7 linked regions of the Homo sapiens genome follow. The protein of the gene in region 1 interacts with the protein of each later gene in a pairwise test. Each region holds a gene or a part of one and is shown in the gene's direction. Other genes may lie near its edges. The genes, in order: TMX2, SERF1A, TMBIM6, MFF, C3orf52, UBE2J1 and FDFT1.

Region 1 (3,500 bases):
TTTTCTTTTATTGATCATTCTTGGGTGTTTCTCGCAGAGGGGGACTTGGCAGGGTCATAGGACAATAGTGGAGGGAAGGTTGGCAGATAAACAAGTGAACAAAGGTCTCTGGTTTTCCTAGGCAGAGGACCCTGCCGCCTTCCGCAGTGTTTGTGTCCCTGGGTACTTGAGATTAGGGAGTGGTGATGATTCTTAACGAGCATGCTGCCTTCAAGCATCTGTTTAACAAAGCACATCTTGCACCGCCCTTAATCCATTTAACCCTGAGTGGACACAGCACATGTTTCAGAGAGCACAGGGTTGGGGGTAAGGTCACCGATCAACAGGATCCCAAGGCAGAAGAATTTATCTTAGTACAGAACAAAATGAAAAGTTTCCCGTGTCTACTTCTTTCTACACAGACACGGCAACCATCCGATTTTTCAATCTTTTCCCCACCTTTCCCCCCTTTCTATTCCACAAAACCGCCATTGTCATCCCGGCCCGTTCTCAATGAGCTGTTGGGTACACCTCCCAGACGGGGTGGTGGCTGGGCAGAGGGGCTCCTCACTTCCTAGTAGGGGTGGCCGGGCAGAGGCGCCCCTCACCTCCCGGACCGGGCGGCTGGCCGGGCGGGGGGCTGACCCTCCCACCTCCCTCCTGGACGGGGCGGATGGCCGGGCGGGGGGCTGACCCCCCCCCACCTCCCTCCCGGATGTGGGGCTGACCCCCCCACCTCCCTCCCGGACGGGGCGGCTGGCCGGGCGGGGGGCTGACCCCCACACCTCCCTCCCGGACGGGGCGGCTGGCCGGGCGAGGGGCTGACCCCCCCACCTCCCTCCCGGACGGGGCGGCTGGCCGGGCGGGGGGCTGACCCCCCCACCTCCCTCCCGGACGGGGCGGCTGGCCGGGCTGAGGGGCTCCTCACTTCCCAGTAGGGGCGGCCGGGCAGAGGCGCCCCTCACCTCCCGGACGGGGCGGCTGGCCGGGCGGGGGGCTGACCCCACCTCCCTCCCGGACGGGGCGGCTGGCCGGGTGGGGGGCTGACCCCCCCACCTCCCTCCCGGACGGGGCGGCTGGCCGAGCGGGGGGCTGACCCCCCCACCTCCCTCCCGGACGGGGCGGCAGGCCGGGTGGGGGGCTGACTCCCCCACCTCCCTCCCGGACGGGGTGGCTGGCCAGGCAGAGGGGCTCCTCACTTCCCAGTAGGGGCGGCTGGGCAGAGGCGCCCCTCACCTCCCGGACGGGGCGGCTGGCCGGGCGGGGGGCTGACCCCCCCCACCTCCCTCCTGGACGGGGCGGCTGCCGGGCGGAGACGCTCCTCATTTCCCAGACGGGGTTGGTGCCGGGCAGAGGGGCTCCTCACTTCTCAGATGGGGCGGATGCTGGGCGGAGGGTCTCCTCACTTCTCAGACGGGGCGGCTGGGCAGAGACACTCCTCACCTCCCAGACGGGGTCGCGGCCGGGCAGAGGCGCTCCTCACATCCCGGACGGGGCGGCGGGGCAGAGGCGCTCCCCACATCTCAGACGATGGGCGGCCGGGCAGAGACGCTCCTCACTTCCCAGATGGGATGGCTGCTGGGAAGAGGCGCTCCTCACTTCCTAGATGGGATGGCGGCCGGGCAGAGACGCTCCTCACTTTCCAGACTGGGCAGCCAGGCAGAGGGGCTCTTCACGTCCCAGACGATGGGCGGCCAGGCAGAGACGCTCCTCACTTCCCAGACAGGGTGGCGGCCGGGCAGAGGCTGCAATCTCGGCACTTTGGGAGGCCAAGGCAGGCGGCTGGGAGATGGAGGTTGTAGCGAGCTGAGATCACGCCACTGCACTCCAGCCTGGGCACCATTGAGCACTGAGTGAACCAGACTCCGTCTGCAATCCCGGCACCTCGGGAGGCCAAGGCTGGCGGATCACTCGCGGTTAGGAGCTGGAGACCAGCCCGGCCAACACAGCGAAACCCCGTCTCCACCAAAAAAGTACGAAAACCAGTCAGGCGTGGTGGCGCTTGCCTGCAATCGCAGGCACTCGGTGGGCTGAGGCAGGAGAATCAGGCAGGGAGGTTGCAGTGAGCCGAGATGGCAGCAGTACAGTCCAGCTTCGGCTCGGCATCAGAGGGAGACCGTGGAAAGAGAGGGAGAGGGAGACCGAGAGGGAGAGGGGAGAGGGGAGAGGGGAGAGGGGAGAGGGAGAGGCAGAGGCAGAGGCAGAGGCCAGAATTTGTTTTCATTCTTTATTTTCTTTCCCTAGCTTTTTATTGTTGTTGTTATTTAGTTTTTATTTCATAATCATAAACTTAACTGCAATCCAGCTAGGCATGTAAGGGAACAAGGAAAACACGGAACCCAAAGGGAACTGCAGTGAGAGCACAAAGATTCTAGGATACTGCGAGCAAATGGGGTAGAGGGGTGCTCTCCTGAGAGGAGAGCACAGAAGGAATGGTCTGGTGGTGAAGACAAAACAAGTCAAACTTACTAGACTTATCCACAGTCAGCAATGGTGATCTTCTTGCTGGTCTTGCCATTCCTGGACCCAAAGCGCTCCATGGCCTCTGCAATATTCATGCCTTCTTTCACCTTGCCAAAGACCACATGCTTGCCATCCAACCACTCACTCTTGGCAGTGTAGATGAAAAGCTGGGAACCTTTTGTGTTGGGTCCAGCAATTGCCATGGACAAGGTGCCAGGACCTGTATGCTTTAGGATGAAGTTCTCATCATCAAATTTCTCCCCATAGATGGACTTGCCACCAGTGCCATTATGGCGTGTGAAGTCACCACCTGATACATAAACCCTGGAATAATTCTGTGAAAGCAGGAACTCTTACAACCAAATCCTTTTTGTCCAGTGCTCAGAGCACGAAAGTTTTCTGTTGTCTTTGGAACCTTGTCTGCAAACAGCTCGAAGGAGATGCGGCCCAGGGGCTCACCATCCACGGTGATGTCAAAGAACACGGGGTTGACCATGGCTGATAGTACAGGGCTCCTGGTGGTGGCAGCAAAGCCTCTTTGCCCAACTTTTTATATCTGTTTAGTTTTATCTATATCATTGTTTTCCTCCATTCATTTATTCTGAAATAACCCCCCCTCTTTTTTTTTTTTTTTTTTTTGAGATGGAGTCTCACTCTGTTGCCCAGGCTGGAGTTCAGTGGTGTGATCTTGGCTCACTGCAACCTCCGTCTCCTGGGTTCAAGTAATTCTCCTGCCTCAGCCTCCCGAGAAGCTGGGACTACAGGTGCCTGCCACCACGTCTGGCTAAATTTTGTATTTTTAGTAGAGACGGGGTTTCACCATGTTGGCCTGGCTTGTCTCTTAACTCCTGACCTCATGATCCGCCCGCCTTGGCCTCCCAAAGTGCTGGGATTACAGGTGTGAGCCACCGCGCCCAGCCACAAAGGATTTTTAAAAAGAGCTTTCTGGTCAGAAGTTGGCTTAACTAAAAGCTGATATTCAGGCCATATATATATATATTTTTTTTTTTTTTTTTTTTTTGAGACAGAGTCTCACTGTCACCCAGGCTGGAGTGCAG
Region 2 (4,020 bases), on another chromosome or scaffold:
AATAGAATAAGTGAAGAGATTTGATCTTATAATTGGTTGGAATATCCCATAACACTGCACTGTTTATGTTTGCACAATAATGAAAGTTCATTGAGTACATGTTCACTGACATATATGGATCCTCAGAAATATATATCTTAAACATATATATAAGTATATATAAATGTATACTCATACGCATAACTCAGATGTATGCAAAGACTTCATATATCTAGAATGTATATTGTGTATATTCTATATAATATGTAATGGAGGTTGATAGACATAACCTTTTCTTGATGGTGTAGGTTAGAAATAACTGGTTCATTTAGGGTAGGGCAGATTTCACTTGCACTGATATGGACAAATCAGTGTTAATGACAGAATGCAATAGAGTCATCCTGCTATGTAAACAGAAGCATAGATAACAAATAATACAAAATATGATAAAAGTTTACCTCATTCATAACATCATTTATCTGACCCTTTCCCGCAATTTATCTGGCCTATCTGCCACCATTTAATTAAAAAAATTACAGTGATTATATCATGACTGCTTTCAAATCTCACTGTACAACTCTAAAAACATACACTTATTTGATAGCCTTGAATTTCAGCAGAAAAGATAATACTTATAAGAGGTATAGACTTTAAAATATATCATATTTGTGCAGAATATTTTAAGTTATAAATATGTATGCATAAGGCCTAGTTGATGTAACATTAGTATAGATGCTACAAATGCAAGTTCATTAAAGAATATTAAGATATTCTTCCCTGTAAATCTAAGGAAGCAAAACAATGGGAAATTTCTCAAAGATCTAAAGCAGGAGATGAAATAGGGACAAACTGAGTGTTTGCTCAACCGTAATTGTGAAGCAATCAGTTTAATTTTCTCACAGTTGATTTTGTTTAATTAGGAGATGACATTAGCTAACTTTGCAGTTCTACATCGTTGCAAAAAGGACAGAGGAGGTTTTGACATATTGTGCCTTTACTATTAAAGAAATATCATTCAGTGAGTTTTTTGTACACATTTCTATTTGTGTGGTTTTTTTCACTGAAAATAATGCTTTTAAATTTCAGAATACAACAGCTTAACTTATCACATAATAGAGATATACATATTGTATATCCCTTTTAAAATTAGTGCTAATGTAGCATGAGGGAAATGTAATTCAACAAGCTCGGAGCCCCGGCCGAGCTTCGGAGCCCCGGCCCAGCCCCGGCCGCGCACGCGCAGTGACGCGCCGGCCATGCCGGCGGCTGTTGTCGGGCCTCCAGCGGGCGGGGCCGTTGGCGGAGCAGAGGGGAGGCGCAGCCGGGCGGAGGGCCCACGAGGGCTCAGCCTTCCCGGTCAGCGGTGGTGACGGTATCCCAGAGTGCCAGAGAACCGTTGCTTTTCCGAGTTGCTCTTCTTCCAGGCTCCGTTGGTGGTCGGCATGGCCCGTGAGTGGGGGTGGGAAGCGGCGGCGAGCGTCCGGCGTGGGAGCCTAGCGCTGAGGCGCGGCGGGCGGGGGAGGCGGAGTCCGGCTGGAGAATCCCCCTGGGTCGCGCAGTGCGGGGATCCCCGCTTCAGTCGGCAGAGAGAGAGCTCGCGGGTGGTTCCGGTCCGGCTTTTCAGGCCGGACGGGTGCCTGCCCCTCAGGTGCGAGTTTGTGCGGTAAAGAACACACCCCGGAGATGTGGACACGGCCGCCCCAGGAGGGTCCTTGTTTGGAGGTACTTTATAGCTGATACCTCAAGTCTTAAGGCCTAATGAGGACCGGGAACTCCAGTGAGTCGCCTCCCTAGTTCTTTTGTTTGGCGCTCGCAGGTAGTAGCCGAATAAACAGGAGGCTTTAGAGCCGGTCCTAAATTTGATGTTCGTTTGTACCAGTCCTAGGTGTTAGGTCAGTCTGTTCTGCAAAATGAAAACAATGAAGCCTACCTTGCAGGGTTGTGGCTAGAATAAGGATGTAAAGGCCCACACTGCCTTTCGCAGACTTACCTTCAATCTGTTCAGTCTCCATCCACCCCTCTCCGCCTCTGCATGGGGATAAAGGTAACTCTCAAATGATGGGCTGAACTTGTGATCTCTGTATCTAGCTTTCTCTTCCACCCACTCCCCTCAAAAGCCAGAACTTATTTTGGGATACCGGCCCAAGATTCGAATATCTGTTTTAAAATATCTGGTATTTATAGCTAGTGACCACCTAGATTGGTATGATAATACTCTTAAGTCTTTAAGTGTTTAAGCCACTTCCTTATTGTCAGATCTAGGAGCACCATCAATCTGTTACTCTGCTAGTTTATCTATGAAAACACAAACTAAAGATGCATTTAAATAAGGCCTGTTTATTGGAATTATTAATAATTTTGGAGATGGGAAAAGAGCATGACTGTTTGACTTTGTAGGTGGAAATCAACGAGAACTTGCCCGCCAGAAAAACATGAAGAAAACCCAGGAAATTAGCAAGGGAAAGAGGAAAGAGGATAGCTTGACTGCCTCTCAGAGAAAGCAGAGGTACGTGGTACTAATTTAATTCTAAAGTCACTGACGTTGTGATTGAAGCAACATTTTGGGCTGGGTGTGTTGCCTCATGCCTGTAATCCCGGCAGTTTGGGAGAGTCGGGAGAACTGCTTGAAGCCAAGAGTTTGAGACCAACTTGGACAACATAGCCAGCCCCTGTATCTACAAAATATTTTTTTAAATTGGCCAGGCATGGTAGCACATGGCTGTGGTCTCGGCTACTCTGGAGGCTGAGGCGGGAGAATCGCTTGAGCCCAGGAGGTTAAGGCCGCAGTAAGCTGCGATTGCACCACTGCACTCCAGCCTGGATGGCAGAGTTAGACCCTGTCTCAAAAAAAAAAAAAAAAAAAAAAAAAGAAGGCCTCATTTTGGGGAACAGAAAGCATTTTGTTAAGCCCTTGGTAGAACAGGGCCTAATGATTTGTGCCAGGCGGACTAAAACCACGTGGGGTAGACATCCCAACATATAGATAAAAACGTAAAGCTCTGAAGCTATTATTTGTTTCACAGAGACTCATGCAGCTCCTCCACAACCATAAGAACTTTTTATAGGCTGGGCGCGGTGGCTCACGCCTGTAATCTCAGCACTTTGGAAGGCCAAGGTGGGTGGATCACCTGGGGTCAGGAGATCGAGATCAGCCTGACCAACATAGTGAAACCCTATCTCTACTAAAAATACAAAATTAGCTGGGTGCAGTGGCACATGCCTGTAATCCCAGTTACTTGGGAGGCTGAGGCAGGAGAATCGCTTGAAACCGGGAGGGGGAGGTTGCAGCGAGTGAAGATTGTGCCATTGCAATCCAGCCTGGGTACTGAGCGGGAAACTCTGTATCAAAAAAACAAAACAAAACAAAAAAAAACAACTTTATTCAGCAAAATAACATCTTCTATATGCAAAACACTGTGAGGTGCTAGAGTTACAACATTTTCAAAGTAGACAGCCTACCCAAACTACTCTGAATGACAAGGGACTCAATTATTAATATATAATGATAATAGTTCTCAAGAAGATACAAAAAAGTATATGCATAATAGCTAGCTGTGCTGATTTCTGAAGATCCATTGCATTGGAGAGAATTCATGTACATAGCCTTAATATATGACTATATGTGCCAATGTAAAACTGCTACAGAAATACTTTAGACTGCAGCTTAAGTAAAAAAAAGTACACTCATGTTTCTAAAAGAGCTAATCAAAGCTTAATTTTATTCTCAAATGATTTTGTCCATATGGAACTTGGAGGTTAAGCGAATAACTGACTGCATGTGCTTCAGTGTGGCTTGTTAGGGGTTCTCAATCCTGGCTGCACATTAGAATCACCTGGGAAACCTTGACAGCTACTCAAGCCTTGCGTTATGCTCAGTTTTGATTTTTTGTTTTTTTAAAAAATTGAATTACAATAGTTGTACATATTTTGGGGGTACATGTGATCTTTTAATACCTGTATGTGGGCTGGGTAGTCCCAGCCACTTGGGAGGCTAAGGCAGGAGAATCACTTGAACCTGGGAGGCGGAGGTTGCAGTGAGCC
Region 3 (3,439 bases), on another chromosome or scaffold:
TAACTCCTTTGCGACTATTGAGTTGAGATTAACCTTCATTCTGGGGGAAGTTAAGGAATGGCTTTAATGGGATTGCTTTACTTTGCCTTGGCTTCTCTCAAGACAGCTTTTTGCTGTGTCTTATAGGTATCTTGATGTCAGCCCTGAGCTTGTTGCTTTTGTCTTCCCTGGGGAATGTTTTCTTTGGATCCATTTGGCTTTTCCAGGTAAGACTTAGCCTGGAACTTTCCAGCAGCCATTTGCCTCACACTTCTTTCTTTCCTTTTTTTTTTTTTTTTGCACTTCTTTCTGTACTACTTTGGGCAGTGCTCTCTAAGCCTTCCCATTATCCTTCATAGGATGGAGCCTTCTGCCACAAGTGAAAACAGGCTGCACAAGGTTGGGCATTGCTAAGAGAAAATGGTTTGCTCAGACACCATTTGTGTAAGGCCAGTCTGGCAGTGGCTGATTGTTAAAATGATTGAAACTCTTCCAGTGACCAGTGCAGTATTGTGCCTAGGGAAGTAAAGTGGTCTTCACCCTAGGCTGCAGTTCTCGTGAATGGTAATGTTCATAGGGTTCACATTTGATGTACTTTCAAGTGACTATGAGCCAGAAAGTATGGCTGGTTTTTTTTTCTCTGCAACTTCTGCTGTATAGTAACTTCATCTCTTACATTTGTTAGGCAAACCTGTATGTGGGACTGGTGGTCATGTGTGGCTTCGTCCTTTTTGATACTCAACTCATTATTGAAAAGGCCGAACATGGAGATCAAGATTATATCTGGTGAGTGTGGGAACTAGTCTTTAACAAGCATGAAGGTTGAGGCATACCGTTCAGCAGCTGAACTTAGGTTGGCATTGGCTGAACATAGGTGGCCAAGCTTTGGGAGTGTATGTGGTAGGAAACCCACGGTTTTGGAACTGTGTACCATAATCTTCCTCAATTCCTGAAAGATTTCAGATTTTTTAAAAATCTGGGCTAATAGGCCAGGTGTGGTGGCTCACACCTATAATCCTAGCACTTTGGGAGGCTGAGGCCACTGGATCGCTTGAGCTCAGAAGTTTGAGACCAGCCTGGGCAACATGGCGAAATCCCATCTCTACTAAAAATATAAAAAAATTAGCTGGGCATGGTGGCACATGTATATAATCCCAGCTACTCAGGAGGCTAAGGTATAAGAATCATTTGAACCTAGGAGGTGGAGGTTGAAGTGAGCCAAGATTGCACCACTGCACTCCAGCCTGGCAACAGAGCGAGACCCTGTCTCAAAAAAAAAAAAAAAAAAGTGTGGGGGCCGGGCACGGTGGCTCACGCCTGTAATCCCAGCACTTTGGGAGGTCGGGGCAGGCGGATCACGAGGTCAGGAGATCGAAACCATCCTGGCTAACACGGTGAAACCCTGTCTCTACTAAAAATACAAAAAATTAGTCGGGCGTGGTGGCGGGCACCTGTAGTCCCAGCTACTCAGGAGGCGGAGGCAGGAGAATGGTGTGAACCGGGGAGGCGGAGCTTGCAGTGAGCGGAGATTGCACCACTGCACTCCAGCCTGGACGACAGAGCGAGACTCCTTCTCAAAAAAAAAAAAAAAAAAAGTGTTGGGGGGTGGCTATATATTTACATATCCATAGTGGCTACCTCCAAGCAGAAGTGAGGGAAAGAGATCTTTCTCCTTTTCCTATTTATACTTCTGTATTTTTTAAACAATGAGTAGAAGATACACTCTTTTTTTAGAGACAGGGTCTCGCTCTGTTGCCTAGGCAGTAGTGTGGTGCCATGAACACAGCTCGCTGCAGCCTGAATTTACTGTGCTCAAGCAGTACTCCTGCCTCAGCCTCTTGAGTAGCTGGGACAACAGGCACGTGCGACCATGCCAGGCTAATTTATTTTTTGTAGAGATGGGGTCTTACCATATGCCCAGATTGGTCTCAAGCAGTCCTCTTGCCTTGGTTTCCCAAAGTGTTGGGATTACAGGCTTAAGCCACCATGCCCAGCCACTTTTTTTTTTTTTTTTTTTTTTTGAGACAGTTTTGCTTTGTCACCCAGGCTGGAGTGCGGTGGCAACATCTCAGCTCACTGCAACCTCCGCCTCCTGGGTTCAAGCGATTCTTGTGCCTCAGCCTCCCTAGTAGCTGGGATTACAGGCACTCTCCACCACGTCCAGCTAATTTCTGTAATTTTAGTAGAACGAGGTTTTGCCACGTTGCCCCGTGAGGACATGGTGTCGAACTCTTGGCCTCAAGCAATCTGCCTTCCTCAGCCTCCCAAAGTGGTGGGATTACAGACATGGGCCACCATGCCCAGCTCACTTTTTTTTTTTTGAGACGGAGTTTCGCTCTTGTTGCCCAGGCTGGAGTGCAACGGTGTGATCTTGGCTCACCGCAGCCTCCGTCTCCCGGCTTCAGGTGTTTCTCCTGCCTTAACATCCTGAGTAGCTGGGATTACAGGCATGCACCACCATGCCCGGCTAATTTTGTATTTTTAGTAGAGATGGGGTTTCTCCATGTTGGTCAGGCTGGTCTCAAACTCCTGACTCAGGTGATGCCCGCCTCAGCCTTCCAAAGTGCTGGGATTACAGGTGTGAGCCACTGTGCTCGGCACTTTTTTTTTAATGTAGTGATTCTCTCAGTCTCATGACTAATTAGTGGTAGTTAAGGGTTCAGACTTGGACCTCTGCAGAGTTCAGAGCGCTTGAGACAGGGCTTGCTCTGTCACCCAAGCTGCAGTAGGAGAGTGGCACTGTCATGGCTTACTGTAGACTCAAGCTCCCTGGGCTCAGGTGTTCCTCCCATCTCAGCCTCCTCAGTAGCTGGGATTACAGGCACATGCCACAATGCCCTGCTAATTTTTGTAGAGACGGGATTTTGCTATGTTACCCAGGTTGGTCTCGAACTCCTGGGCTCAAGCAGTCCACCTGCCTCAGCCTCCCAAAATGTTGGGATTACAGGCATGAGCCACTGTGCCTGGCCCAGTCTCTTTTCTCTATGCTGCATGACTTCGATGAGTCTAAAGGATCTCAGACACCAGAGTTTTACTTCCTTAGTTGGGGGTAAAGTGTGGGAGAAGCTGGCTCGTGGGGGTAGGGGTGGGGTTTATATTCTGCATCTTTGTGGGCTTGTGGATAAAAAAGTCTGAAGTACAGATCCTAATCTGGTTCTTGCCTTTCAGGCACTGCATTGATCTCTTCTTAGATTTCATTACTGTCTTCAGAAAACTCATGATGATCCTGGCCATGAATGAAAAGGTTAGTTAGCCTACAACCCAAAGATGAGACAATAATGGCTCCTGAGCTTGGCATGTGTGTATACTTCAGATTTGAAAACTTGCTCACACACTGTGTTAGGTCCAGGGTAACTGTAAGGCAGGCCACTGAGTAAGAGGTAAGCCAGAAGTCTTCAGTTGTTAGAAAAAAAGCAGCAAGTGAAAAAAAAATTTTTTTAACTAATTCCTGCGTTTAGTA
Region 4 (3,500 bases), on another chromosome or scaffold:
AACTTATAAAAATATGGATTTTTTCCTCCATAATGGAAAAAAAATTGTGCCTCAGAGTCAAATGTATAAAATCAAAAATCGTATTAGTATAAACTTTGTATTTTTTTAATAATGAAAAATATTTTTGGACTTTCAGTGAAATTTTATTTCACTTTTTTACATTGTGATGAATTGATAACTCTAAAATCCCTTTTCTGGGAAGGAATTCTCTTTTCTCATTCATTTCAGTAAGTTTTTAAAAGTTCATGAAGGAGTTATATTAATAATGCTTTTCTCCTAGATCTGTAGCATTAGTTGTTACCTTGGAGCTTGGAGGGTTAGATTCTCATCAGTCTTATTGACGCTTTCAGTATTGAAAGGATTTTTTAAAGTTGTATTCACTTAGGATCTCAGTGTTGAGCAAGATTTTATCAGAATTTTAAGTGCCAAATCAGTTTTTATTTCCTTTGTGAGAAGTATCTGGCATGACTTTTCAGATATAAGAAATAGGAATGTGAAATTTGGATAATGTTCTACTTGCATGATTATAAAATAATACTGCTTATAAAATTTTAAGTGCTTCTATGTTCCTTGCTCTGTAGATCATTTTTTCTTTTCTATTTTATTACTCTTGGCTATTATGCTAATGCAATACCTTATCTTTGGTCATATGCCATCACATTAGGTGTAGTTAATTTAAACTAGAACTATTTGGCAGAAAAAGAAAAAAGCTTTCTGCTTGCTTTATCACTATGAAGTAATGCAGATTCACAATTCCTTGACATAAGAACTGTGTTCAGTTTACATTTTAAAGGACGCTGTCAAAAGGTTTGTGTACCATATATTTTTTTCTTACAAGAATGTAGATGATCTAAACCAAACTCAACGTGAAAACCAAGTTAAATCCTAGGTACATGTTAGAAAAGTTTATTTACACAGGTGAGTGTTACGCATTTGGAGAACTGATACACTGAAAATTTACCAAAGCACCAGGTGTGTCATTTGCTCAGGTGCAGCAGAAATTAAAATACTATTATGATTTGGTCCTTAACTGGTTAGAAAATGCCGGTCTCTCCCTGTATCTGTTAGAGCTATGTATCTCATTTTACAATGTAAAATATTCGCATCTTCAAAAAGAAACTTAGTTCCTGTGTAAGAACCTTATTTAAATATTGATAGATGAGTCATGCTTAGCTCTCATTTTTACGAGGGGCTTGATTATTTTTATGCAGTTTTTCCTTAACAGATTGTACCAGCTTTGAGTGCATAGAATAAGAAACCAATGTATGAATAATTTATATTTTTGGCAAGTATCCCTATAAATATACAGCTTGGAAGACCTAGAAATCCAGAGTTGCAGTGGATACAGCGTTTGTTATTTATAATTTTTCTCTTTAAAAAAGTGTATAATTCCTGATCCCCAATTAAACTTTATTTTCTGTAGCAGATTACATTTTTATAGCAAAGAAACACATATTCTGTTACGTCAGAGTGTATTTACTCAAAAAATGTCAGTACGCAAGTTAATGGCGGAGCTTGGTGGTAGCCTTGGATTTCTTTCCCTTTTGCCACTCTACAAAACATACTGTTGAGAAGATTTTATGTATTAAATCATACTTATCGTAGAAAATGGTACTTGAATGAAGTTTCTAACTTTGCCACATACCTGTCTAATTTACTTTTACAATATATGTGTCAATTGCCAGTGTGAGAAGACAAAATGAAATACGTTGTGAAAGGTAACTGTATTATTTTCTGGCTCTGCGTTATAAAAGGGAAATCTCTGTGGTGGAATAGGTTGAATATGACAGACCCATTTGAACATACTGTGTGCATTTTAAAAAGCTTTAGGAAGCACACAGTGATGGCTTCATCTAGTTAACCATTTTCATGTTAGTGCAATTTAAGATTGTAGTTAAATAACAGGTTTCCTAATGCCACAGAGTAAATATGTTAGTAGGATGAGATGAGTTAAAGACCTGTCTTAAGCATATGTGATTTCTCCATGTTTTTTAGCCAGTAAAATAAAAGTCAAACATGTTCCCCCAAAAAGTCTCTGAATCCCTTATCATCTAGGCTCCAGAAATTTCTTTAAGCACTGGTAGTACCTTTAAGACATGTAGAAGTTAAACATTAGAATTTTCTTACATGAATTGAATTATCAGAAAATAATTTGTATTGTAGTCAAAATTCCACAGCTGTGCCAACTTACAGAAAAAATTAGTGCATTTGGTATTAAACATTTACCATTATATAATTATTGTCTTGATACTTAAATTCAGGCAAAACCAGATCAGTTACTTAGAGAATGAGATATCCAAAATAGGATTTAATAATTCTTCAAATCTTTATATGGATCCAACACTCCAGTCTCCTTTCTCTGCTTAGTAAATATTGCTGATTGTTTTAGGGGGAATTGACCAGTGAACACTTAGAAGCTTTTGTTTTCTGATTTTAAAAGATAAAACGTATTGGAAAGGTTACTGCTTATCAAAGTAGAAAGCTAACTGTCCTCTAGCGCCAAAGTATATACTGAGAATGAGTGGAAATCCCCACCAAGTTTCCCATTGCACCTTAGTCTTCATTTCCAGCAGCCCTGTATGTCACTCCTGGCTGTCTCAAGATCAGACTCAAATTGTGGATTGCCCTTCCTGTAATGTGCTCTAGCACGTCTCCTGATCTCAGCTTCAGAGTGGAGGCTTGCATTTTCACTCTGGAGAGCTGAGAGTTTGAATGAGACACAGCTGCAACGAGACATCAGGCACTACTCAAAATTAATGAGGTGGGAGGGAAGGAAGTGTGGGAAATGGAGTTTCTTGAAATTTATGAATACGGTTTTTGAGATAGAGCTGTTGATATCAGATGAGCAACTGTGGTCATACCGGTGCAGCTAACCAGGTCCTGATATGCTTTTAAAGGTGCTAGTGATTTTTTTTTTCCAACTGGAAGAAAGGAATTACACTTTTTAAGCAGAGTTGTCCTCTGTCTTAAATTTCATAAAGTAAAGCACCAAGAAAATTATTTTATATGTTGGTGCTGTTTTGTCGTGTAAATATAGATTCCCTTTGTTTCTTTGATCAATAGTAATGTTGAGTTTATGAAAATGATAAAATGGAGGACACATGAGACAAGGATTTTTTAAAGTAGTTGAGAGATATTATATTGTATTGAAATATACAATATAATCCTATTTGACATTTATTTGTCTTGTTTTTGCTTTTATTTTATTACTTCTCTGTTTCCTGATTCTGTCTTGTGCCTTCTCCCGCAAAAACCTGCCTTAGACCTGTGTTGCGTGGTGGGTCTGCTGCCGCCACTTCTAATCCTCATCATGACAACGTCAGGTAAATTTTGAGACTTCGTAATTACCAGGGTAAATGCTTGGCGGAATTTGTGTGTTGCAGGGCATGTTGCATGTCGTAGCCATGCCTGTGTTTGTAGCTGAACTTGTTTCTACAGCTTTCCTCGATGAGTACATCTTGCTTCTCTCTAAGAACAGTGAATAATCAGTCATGACATTT
Region 5 (3,500 bases), on another chromosome or scaffold:
AGTAAATATCTTTACTGTAGTGCAAAGCCAGAGGGAAGATTCCTGGCCTCCAGCTGCATAAATGCTGGAGGACACTGTTCTTTTTACTCCCTTAGGTCCTACATTTAATTCAACCTATAGTATTCATTGAGGGTCTGTGATGTGCTAGACAGCATGCCAAGTGCCAGGGCCACATTGTCTGTGCCTTCAGGGGTCTCACAGTCCAAGTACAGGAAGTGACTAAAAAGATCGTTTTATAATAGTGTGGTATGTTCTAGTGTGTTGTACAGTGGCAAAGGAGGGGCATCTGAGCTACCTCAGGTGAAGATGAAGGCATGAAAGGCCTGTTAAGTGAAGTGATGCTCAGGATGAGTTTTGAAATGAGGTAGGAATGTTCTAAATAAAAAAGCATGGGACATTAAAGGATCTGCAAAGTAGTGTACTGTGGCCTTCCCATGCTTTGTGGTGACAGCTGGCAGAGATAAGGCTAAAAAGGAAGGCAGGCGTCAGGTCATGAAGGCTTTCCCACTCTTCAATAAGGCACCAAAATATTTTAATCAGCAGATTGACACAGTTAGATTTTTCCTTTTAGCCTTTCTGTGTTTTGGTGGAGAAAGCCAGGAGGAAGAGATCAGTTAGAAGGTGTTACAATAGTCCAGGTGAGAAATGAGGGAGACTTGAACTAGGGCAGTGTCGGGAAAATAAGGAAGATTTGCGTGAGATTTAAGAGGTATTCTCACTCAATAAGAGTCCATGACTGATTGGGTGGTGGTGAGGAGAGCATGACTCCAAGCTCCAGTTGAGTGATTGGGCAGATGGATGGCGGTGTCAGTCATGGGATGAGAAACCCAGGAGAATGAACCCTCTGTGGAAGATGGAAGCTCTGCAGCCAGACTAGGACCGTTGGGTGGGGCATCCTGATCATCCTGTCAAAGACAAGGTGGTTCACAGCCAGACCCAGAAATTTTGATAAGAAAATCTAGGCAAGAGCAGGCTGCCCTCCATTAAATTCTTCTCTGCCATTGCTAGGTTGAATGGAGTGAGTGCTGTTTATCTAACTTCCATTCGATTTGATTCCTACAAAAGCTCCTGAAGAGGCGATTCCATCCAGGTCACATCAGAATCAGTTTCTGGGTACCCACGCATGAGATTTCATTGCTTCTTTTATCACAGGAGTTGGTATCCTGTGATGATTACTCCAGATTTCTCTTTCTCCTTCTCTTCATTTATATCTTTAAATTTTTTTTAGATTGTTTAAATTTATTTATTTATTTTTATTTTTTATTTCCGTAGGTTTTGGGGGACCAGGTGGTATTTGGTTACATGAATAAGTTCTTTGGTGGTGATTTCTGAGATTTTGGTGCACCCATTACCCGAGCAGTGTACACTGTGCCCAATTTGTAGTCTTTTATCCCTCACCCCCACCACCTTTTCCATCAAGTCCTTGAAGTCTCTTCATTTATGTCTTATCTTCACCTCCTTTTCTCCTTTCCTTCCACCTGCTTCCTGGGGCAAGTTGCTGAGTGAGACGCTTCTTGCTACTTTCCTCTTGGCTGCTTTTTTAATGGAGAGGTTTTTGCATTTGCTGAGCAGAAATAAGATGAGTCAGCATCCACATGTGTCACCTGTTGCATAGTAGACTGTCTATTTCAAAGGTAAATGAATGTTCATTTTTCATTTTACAACCATATATCTTGCACAGAGTCAGATATGAGGAAATTCTGCGGGTATTTTGAGCTCATCACTAGGTAGTGGCAAAAGAACAGGGACTGACATTGATGCCTGTGGTGGGTCCACAGATTTCTTTGAGCCAGTTTCTTCGCTGATAAATGGAAACCAGTGCACTTTCTCTGTGTATCTCAGGTGCAAATGAGATTACATAAAAATAACTTGAAAAACATTTTAAAAGAATTATCTTATTTACAAATGATCAAAGTAAGGCATAGTGAGGTGACAGATTCCTGCCCTTCATTCGTCAACCAAATATGCTCAGGAACAAAAATTAGCACCTAAAGGTATTGCTGTCTTATTGTCAGGTCAATAACTCCTTTCTTCCATTAGGTCAAGTTTCAGAAGTTTCTGGATATAAAAGGTAAATGGAAGTGGGTATTTGTGGGGGAAAAATTATTTTTTTCTCTATACCCACATTCAATGCAGAACACTTCTTTGGCCGTGTGTGTGTGTGTGTGTGTGTGTGTGTGTGTTTTCCACACCAACCAATTATCTGCCACCAGCTGGGTGTCTTGCAATCCAGTTCAATTCTGACATGATCTGCCTGGAGTTAGTGCAGACCCCATAGTTTAAGGGTTCAGCCCCACAAAACTTCCCTCATTTAAGATGCCAGTTACGGGAGGCTGAGGCAGGCGAATGGTGTGAACCCGGCAGGCAGAGCTTGCAGTGAGCCGAGACCGTGCCACTGCACTCCAGCCTGGGCAACAGAGCGAGACTTAGTCTCCAAAAAAAAAAAAAAAAAAAGATGCCAGTTCAGTTACAAGTCTAGGTTGTCACTTGTGCTTCTGACCAACCAGCTGCAAATTGGAGGTCTCCAAAACCCCCACCTTGGGTTTGGTCATTTGCTAGAATGGCTCACAGAGCTCAGGGAAGCATCACATTTATGGGCACACTGTAGAAAATAGAGGATATCAAAAGCCAGATAAAAAGGTACATAGGGCGGACACGTGGGACAGAATGTGGGCATCCATGTCCTTTCAGGTGTGCCACTCTCCCTTGTAAATGTGTTCAGCCACCTGGGAGCTCTCCAGACTCTGTCTTTTAGGGATTTTTATGGAGATTTCCTCACATAGGCATGGTGGATTATTAGCTTGCTTTCCAGCCTCTCTCCCCTCTGGAGGATGGGGGTGGAGGTGGGGCCAAAAGCTTCAGATTTCTTCTTCTTCTTTTTTTTTTCTCCAGACAGTTTTCACTATATTGCCTAGGCTGATATCAAGCTCCTGGCCTCAAGCGATTCTCCCTGCTCAGTCTCCCGAGTAGCTGGGACTACACGCATGCACCATCCCACTCCACCACACTGGCTGAAAGTTCCAAGCTTCTAGCTGCGGCTTGGTCTTTCTGATGATCAGCCCCCATCCAGCAGCCCGCCAAGAGTTGCCTCATCAGAAATAAAGACACTCCTATAACCCAGGAAACTGCAAGAGATTTAGGAGCAGGTCTGTGTCAGGAGCTGGAGTAAAGACCAAATGTTAGAGTAAAAGATGTACCCGGCGCCCCTGTCACTCAGGAAGTAACAAGGGTTTTAGGAATTCTGTGCCAGGAACTGGGGCAGAGACTAAACAGTATACATATTGTTATTATATCACAGTATTGGAACTTTATGCCCTTTCCCTTGACTTTTCTAAACACAGGCCCTGCCATGTGTCACTGCCACAGTGTTTTCCTCTCAGGGTTGGGGCCATTACTCTGCTTAAGCCAGCCTGTGTGACTACCACACCCTGTGCATGGGTTAGGAGTTAATGATGGCACCTGCCTTATTCTGGAAGCTGGTCTCTAATTAGCCACTGCAT
Region 6 (3,500 bases), on another chromosome or scaffold:
AATAGACAATTTTCTCATTGTATAGATGTAAAACTTATTTTTCTTTAGATAGTTTATTGGAAAAAATAGCATCTGAGCCCTGGATTTTTTTAAAGCCAGCCTAACATTTACTTGTCTCAGGACTATAATCATTACATTAATTTTCTAATTCATAGCATGTGGATAAATGTGATGTGGAATTTTCCAGTGTTCCTTTCTTTTAAGTTTAATGATCGAGCATTTGAGTGTCTCAGTGAGAGGGAATTAAACATTTAACTATTTATTTTCATTTAAAAAATCTTTTTCTACTAGATCACAAGATTTCTGTTGTGAAGGATGTGGCTCTGCCATGAAGGATGTCCTGTTGCCTTTAAAATCTGGAAGCGATTCAAGCCAAGCTGACCAAGAAGCCAAAGAACTGGCTAGGCAAATAAGCTTTAAGGTACTATAAATTCTTAAATAAATGCTAATCTTGCAACCCTTTTGTTTACTGCTGGATTCTGCATAGAAAGGAAAGCGATGCAGTTCTATTACAATATGACATTTGCCAATGTTTTTCTTTTTTCATATTTTTATATTTTTAATTTCTGTGGTTACATAGTAGGTGTATATATGTATAGGGTACATGAAATGTTTTAATACTGGCATGGAATGTTTTTCTTATTACAAAATTCCTAACTACATTCATGAAAGCTTTATAGAATAGTGAGGGAGTGAAACTTGAACTCTGGTATACAATGCCAGGGTTCAAATCCCAGCTCTGTTGCTTATTAGTAGTATGATGTCAGACATATTAATTAACCACTTTGTGCCTTTTTATTATCTATAAATAATAATGGTACCTAAATCATAGGATTGCTGTGAGGATTGAATTAATATATGTAATACATGTGTTGCATTCAGAACTGTCCCTGGTGCTTAATAAATTCTAGCTATTATTACAGAATATATAGATAAGCAACAAGAAGAAAATGATGGCCGGGCGCGGTGGCTCACGCCTGTAATCCCAGCACTTTGGGAGGCCAAGGCGGGCGGATCACCTGAAGTCAGGAGTTCGAGACCAGCCTCAACATGGAGAAACCCCGTCTCTACTAAAAATACAAAATTAGCCAAGCATGGTGGTACATGCCTGTAATCCCAGCTACTCGGGAGGCTGAGGCAGGAGAATTGCTTGAACCTGGGAGGCAGAGGTTGCGGTGAGCCGAGATCGCGCCATTGCACTCCAGCCTGGGCAACAAGAGCGAAACTCCATCTCAAAAAAAAAAAAAAGAAAAAAGAAAAAGAAAATGACATTCATAATCTCACCGCCAAGAAATAGCTACTGTTAATATTTTGGCATCCCTCCTATATATCCCTTTTTTCTGTATATGTTTTACCCGAACATAGGATTATATAATATTTTAATACTTTGAGTATTAAATATTTAATTATTGAAGGTATTAGCTGGGCGCAGTGGCTCACGCCTGTAATCCCAGCACTTTGGGAGGCCGAGACAGGCAGATCACGAGGTCAGGAGATTGAGACCATCCAGGCTAACACGGTGAAACCCTGTCTCTACTAAAAATACAAAAAATTAGCTCGGCATGGTGGTGTGTGCCTGTAATCCCAGCTACTTGGGAGGCTGAGTCAGGAGAATCGCTTGAACCTGGAAGGTGGAGGTTGCAGTGAGCCAAGATTGTGCCTCTGCACTCCAGCCTGGGTGACAGAGTGAGACTCCATCTCAAAAAAATATAAATAAATAAATACATACATACATACAGACGTAAAGTATTAAGTATTTAATCCTTCTGGAATTTAATTAGCTTCACAAACAGAAATGTCAACCTGCATTAAGCAGCATGCTCTCTTCCTCTTCCCTCTCCACTTCTCTATGGACTGTCTGTCTTTCCAGGTCCAGTTCCCTTCTCTTTTATTGTAGTGCCTGGAGGAGGAGTTGCTCAGAACATGTTTACTTTCTTCCTTCTGAGGATTCCTATTACACTTAAAATTGCTTCTGAAAAATCTCAGGACCAAATGTGTTTTGTACATGAGAATTTTTCAGACTTAAGAAAAGATCTTACATATACCATATATTAACTAACCTGCCGTGCGATCTGGGGCAGCACCTCATAATCAAATCCATTAGGATTTCTTCAGCAAATCTGGGAATATTACATTAATGTGGGATTAATGTTTACACTAATGTGGGATAAAGACTATTCATAGGTTCACATCAGCTCATATCAGGCTTTGCCTAAAAATTACCAAAAAAACCTTGAGTTTTGAGAGCTTTTTAGCATTGTGGATTGTGAACCATGGGTGTTAGTTTTGTCCCTCATCAAGTAACGGCTTCTTGAGAACAGGTGTTGTGTATGCTTCTTCCTATGATACCTAGTACAGTGTTGGACACAAGAGTGCTCAGTGATTAACTGCCTGATAATAGATATTAAACTAGCAATTAAAATAAATCCAACAGAGAGGATTTAGCAGGTTGTAGATTGTGTATGTTTCCTGTTGTTTCCTGTTGTCACACTGCTCTTGGGTCTATCTTGTTTATAGGCAGAAGTCAATTCATCTGGAAAGACTATCTCTGAGTCAGACTTAAACCACTCTTTTTCACTAACTGATTTACAAGATGATATACCTACAACATTCCAGGGTGCTACGGCCAGTACATCGGTATGGCTCTTATCTTTTAATATATATGTATGTCTCTATCATTATCACTGTTTGCAATAGGAGGAGAAGATCCTGGATCAAATATCTGAAAAATTTGGTTCTCTTAACAACTGGATTCTAACTCATCAGTCCCGCTAATGAATTATTATGTTGAGCAAGTTGTTCATGCTTTCTGGCCTCAGTTTTCTTTTTTTGTTAAATGGGGCTGGATTAAATAATTTTTGTCTTGTCCCTCCAGAATTCTGTGATTCTCTGAAAAGTTAATTTTAATATAGTGTTAGACTGAATAAAACAAAATATCCATATGTTAGCCACTTTCTAAATAGACACTATTTTTGGCAGGATTGTTCAGCTGCATTAAGGTACTGACTTAATAAAGTCGTAGAGCCAAAAATTTACTTAGACTTGCTCTGTCCAACACAGTAGCCACCAGCCACATGCAGGTGTCTACATTTAAATTTAATCAAAATCAAGTAGAATTTAAAATTCAGTTCCTCAGTCACACCACATTTCAAGTGCTCCATAGCCACATGTGGCTAATGGGTACCATATTGGACAGTGTAGACATAAACATTACTATCATCACAAAATTCTGTTGGACAATGCTACCTCGTATATACTAAGTGTCCAATAAATAATTGTTGAATAAAAGAATGAATGCTATGAGTGTTGTTAGTGGTGCCCTGACCTGTTGTCTAAGAAATTGTTTGGCCTAGGTGATCAGAGAGAGTGATTTAAAAAATATGACTGGATTGGTGCCAAAAAATAAGGATTATGGGAAAAAAATGATTTTCCTTCCTATATATAAAAGATTAACTGTCTTTGGAAGTCTTTTTGGTAACAGATTGTTTGGTTAAGTAGTC
Region 7 (3,500 bases), on another chromosome or scaffold:
TTGTCCAACCTTTTCTCAAGGTTTTAAGTTTCCTTGCGATCGGTCAGAACGTGCTGCTTTAGCTTGGAGAAGTTTGTTATTACCAACCTTCTGAAGCCTACTTCTGTCAACTCGTTAAACTCATTGTCCATCCAGTTTTGTTCCTTTGCTGGTGAGGAGTTACGTTCCTTTGGAGGAGAAGAGGCGTTCTGTTTTTGGAATTTTCAGCCTTTCTGCTGTGGTTTCTCCCCATCTTTGTGGTTTTATCTACCTTTGGTCTTTGATTTTGGTGACGTACAGATGGGTTTTGGTGTGGGTGTCCTTTTTGTTGATATTGATCCTATTCCTTTGTTTGTTAGTTTTCCTTCTAACAGAGGCCCGTCAGCTGCAGGTCTGTTGGAGTTGCTGGAGGTCCACTCTAGACCCTGTTTACCTGGGTATCACCAGTGGAGGCTGCAGAACAGCAAATATCGCGGCCTGATCCTTCCTCTGGAAGCTTCGTCCAAGAAGGACACCCACCTATATGAGGTGTCTGTCGGCCCCTACTGGGAGGTGTCTCCTCCCAGTCAGGCTACATGGGGCTCAGGGACCCACTTGAGGAGGCAGTCTGTCCGTTACTGGAGTTCAAATGCCGAGCTGGGAGAACCACTGCTCTCTTCAGAGCTGTCAGGCAGGGATGTTTAAATCTGCAGAAGCCGTCTGCTGCCTTTTGTTTAGATATGCCCTGCCCCCAGAGATGCAATCTAGAGAGGCAGTAGGCCTTGCTGAGCTGCGGTGGGCTCCACCCAGTTCAAGCTTCCTTGCTGCTTTGTTTACACTGTGAGCATAGAAGTGCGTACTGAAGCCTCAGCAATGGCGGGGAGGCGCTTCCCCTCACCAAGCTCCAGCATCCCAGCTTGATCTCAGACTGCTTGGCTAGCAGCAAGCAAGGTTCCATGGGCATGGGACCCCCCGAGCCAGGCACTGGAGGCAATCACCTGCTCTGCCAGTTGCGAAGACTGGGAAAAGCACAGTATTTGGGCAGAGTATACTGTTCCTCCAGGTACAGTCACTCACGCCTTTCCTTGGCTAGGAAAGGGAAATCCCCTGACCCCTTGCACTTCCTGGATGAGGTGACGTCCTGCCCTGCTTTGGCTCACCCTCCATGGGCTGCACCCACTGTCCAACCAGTGCCAGTGAGATGAACCAGGTACCTCAGTTGGAAATGCAGAAATCACCCATCTTCTGCATCGATCTTGCTGGGAGCTGTAGACCAGAGCTGTTCCTACTGGGACATCTTGGAAGCAACTCTGGGTCTGAGTTTCTGTTTGTTGCCCTGATGTATATCCCCAGTGCCTAGAATGATACTTGTTACATAGGAAGTGCTTGATCCATGTTTGCACAAATGAATCTTTCTCATAATGAGGTTTCTCTAAACAAGCTGTTCTCCCAAAAACTTAAACCCAGCTTTATGTTGAAGCATCTCATTATACATTGGAAAGATGAAATGTGTAGTGAGACTTTGAATCTTCTTTTGAATCTAGAAACATTAGCATTTTTAGACCATTCTATTTTAATATTTATGAAATTTATGAAATAATAAGAAACATGAGGCCGGGCTCAGTGGCTTATGCCTGTAATCCCAGCAGTTTGGGAGGCCAGGGCTAGTGGATCATGAGGTCAGGAATTTGAGACCAGCTTGGCCAACATGGTGAAACCCCACTTCTACTAAAAATATAAAAATTAGCTGGGCGTGGTGGTGCATGCCTGTAATGCCAGCTCCTGGAGAGGCTGAGGCAGGAGAATCATTTGAACCTGGGAGGCGGAGTTTGCAGTGAGCTGAGATCGTGCCATTGCACTCCAGCCTGGGCAACATTGCGAGACTCCATCTCAAAAACAAAAACAAAAACAAAAAAAATGTGTGACCTAAATTAGGCTTATAGATGAACCATTGCAGTCATGATTAATTCCGCCATTGTTTGCCTTGTGATCTTTGGTGCCATGTCTGTACATATTTCATGATTTCTGTGTTTTTACGGTTTCCATTTCAGATCTCCCTTGAGTTTAGAAATCTGGCTGAGAAATACCAAACAGTGATTGCCGACATTTGCCGGAGAATGGGCATTGGGATGGCAGAGTTTTTGGATAAGCATGTGACCTCTGAACAGGAGTGGGACAAGGTTAGTCTCATAAAACAGTGTCTGTGTGTGATGTATTAGACAGAGCTGGCAGTCCTCATAGTGAAGCTCAGAACAAGAAAAGTTGTCCAGTATTTTCAGCCCCTCTGGTTTTACAATTCATCTGTTTAGGTTGAATGTCTCATCATAAACAGTTTATTCCAGAGTTAATTCCAAACCAGCAGCTATGTAGGATATCAGCCAGGCTAGGAGTAGGGTACTGGAGAGAAGTGCTTATCTAGACAAAGGGATGTAATTGACCATGAAGATTAAAACTACACATCAAAACATAAGGTAGGGTTAGGAGTCTTGCCTATTTTTCATAGGAATGGTGTTTGTGAGACTTACTCATCACTTCTGTGGAAGTAAAGACATTTTATTTATTTATTTTAAAGCCAGTCAGATTTAGCAGGCAGAGACATTTCAGACATCTAAAGTGTTGATGTATTTCATACCTTTAACTGTGCTTAAATTAGGATCTCCGAAAAGATGCTGCTACATGGTCACTACGTTAGTGTAGGTCCAAGGTCTTGGGCCTCTTAATTTTTCAAACCTCAAAACTTGACAGCAGTTATCTTTGGAACTGCTGATTTGTGCTTCCTAAGTTAACAGCATACAATGACTGCTAGAAATCAATTTCTGCATTTAAGGTGAAGTTAGCCGGGTACTATGGTTTACCTGTAATCTCAGCACTTTGGGAGGCTGAGGTGGGAGGATCATTTGAGCCCAGGAGTTAGACACAAGCCTAAGCAACATAGCGAGACCCCGTCTTTCAAAAAATTAAAAAATGAGCAGGGAATTGGTGGCATGTGCCTGTGGTCCCAGCTACTCTGGAGGCTGAGGTGTGGGAGGATTGCTTGAGCCCAAGAGTTGAAGGTTGCAGTGAGCCATGATTGTGCCACTGCACTCCAACGTGGGTGACAGAGCAAGACACCATCTGAAAGAAAATAAAGTTGAAGTTAAAACTTCTGGCCAAGAACCAGCACTGGTTATGATAGTAACTCATTTTCTGTTGTGCAGATTTATTCAGGAAACTTAATTTTAGGTTGTTGAATAGAAGTTTTGATCAGATAAAATTGAATTAAAAAAAATTTTTTTTGAGACAGGGTCTTGCTGTTATCCAGGCTGGTGTGTAGTGGTGTGATCACGGCTCCCCGCAGCCTCAACCTCCTGGGCTCAGGTGATCCTCCCACCTCAGCCTACCGAGTAGCTGTAACTACAGTGCATGACACCATACCAGGCTCATTTTTGTACATTTTTTGTAGAGAGAGGGTTTTGCCATGTTGCCCAGGCTAGTCTCAAACTCCTGGCATCAAACAGTCCTCCCACTCTGGCCTCTCAAATGTTGGGATTACAGGCATGACC

What was found.
Region 2: the proteins of TMX2 (region 1) and SERF1A interact in binary tests that used the Homo sapiens proteins (3 or more experiments, as listed by UniProt).
Region 3: the proteins of TMX2 (region 1) and TMBIM6 interact in binary tests that used the Homo sapiens proteins (3 or more experiments, as listed by UniProt).
Region 4: the proteins of TMX2 (region 1) and MFF interact in binary tests that used the Homo sapiens proteins (3 or more experiments, as listed by UniProt).
Region 5: the proteins of TMX2 (region 1) and C3orf52 interact in binary tests that used the Homo sapiens proteins (3 or more experiments, as listed by UniProt).
Region 6: the proteins of TMX2 (region 1) and UBE2J1 interact in binary tests that used the Homo sapiens proteins (3 or more experiments, as listed by UniProt).
Region 7: the proteins of TMX2 (region 1) and FDFT1 interact in binary tests that used the Homo sapiens proteins (3 or more experiments, as listed by UniProt).

The regions. Positions count from the first base shown.
Region 1 is NC_000011.10:57,715,593-57,719,092, forward strand, and holds part of TMX2 (thioredoxin-related transmembrane protein 2 isoform 1 precursor), read left to right. Parts: intron 1-2,256; exon of another isoform or gene 2,257-2,974; intron 2,975-3,500.
Region 2 is NC_000005.10:70,899,449-70,903,468, forward strand, and holds the start of SERF1A (small EDRK-rich factor 1), read left to right. Parts: upstream 1-1,220; 5' UTR 1,221-1,421; coding exon 1,422-1,428; intron 1,429-2,376; coding exon 2,377-2,485; intron 2,486-4,020. UniProt on the Homo sapiens protein: Positive regulator of amyloid protein aggregation and proteotoxicity. Induces conformational changes in amyloid proteins, such as APP, HTT, and SNCA, driving them into compact formations preceding the formation of aggregates.
Region 3 is NC_000012.12:49,758,557-49,761,995, forward strand, and holds part of TMBIM6 (bax inhibitor 1), read left to right. Parts: intron 1-126; coding exon 127-206; intron 207-664; coding exon 665-765; intron 766-3,147; coding exon 3,148-3,223; intron 3,224-3,439. UniProt on the Homo sapiens protein: Endoplasmic reticulum (ER)-resident protein that confers cellular protection as an anti-apoptotic protein by limiting multiple stress-inducing pathways surrounding the endoplasmic reticulum and mitochondria.
Region 4 is NC_000002.12:227,349,251-227,352,750, forward strand, and holds part of MFF (mitochondrial fission factor), read left to right. Parts: intron 1-3,263; coding exon 3,264-3,323; intron 3,324-3,500. UniProt on the Homo sapiens protein: Plays a role in mitochondrial and peroxisomal fission. Promotes the recruitment and association of the fission mediator dynamin-related protein 1 (DNM1L) to the mitochondrial surface.
Region 5 is NC_000003.12:112,103,389-112,106,888, forward strand, and holds part of C3orf52 (TPA-induced transmembrane protein), read left to right. Parts: intron 1-3,500. UniProt on the Homo sapiens protein: Has a role in LIPH-mediated synthesis of 2-acyl lysophosphatidic acid (LPA). LPA is a bioactive lipid mediator involved in different biological processes, and necessary to promote hair formation and growth.
Region 6 is NC_000006.12:89,332,223-89,335,722, reverse strand, and holds part of UBE2J1 (ubiquitin-conjugating enzyme E2 J1), read left to right. Parts: intron 1-291; coding exon 292-421; intron 422-2,517; coding exon 2,518-2,637; intron 2,638-3,500. UniProt on the Homo sapiens protein: Catalyzes the covalent attachment of ubiquitin to other proteins. Functions in the selective degradation of misfolded membrane proteins from the endoplasmic reticulum (ERAD) and is essential for cells to recover from ER stress.
Region 7 is NC_000008.11:11,819,741-11,823,240, forward strand, and holds part of FDFT1 (squalene synthase), read left to right. Parts: intron 1-2,009; coding exon 2,010-2,138; intron 2,139-3,500. UniProt on the Homo sapiens protein: Catalyzes the condensation of 2 farnesyl pyrophosphate (FPP) moieties to form squalene. Proceeds in two distinct steps.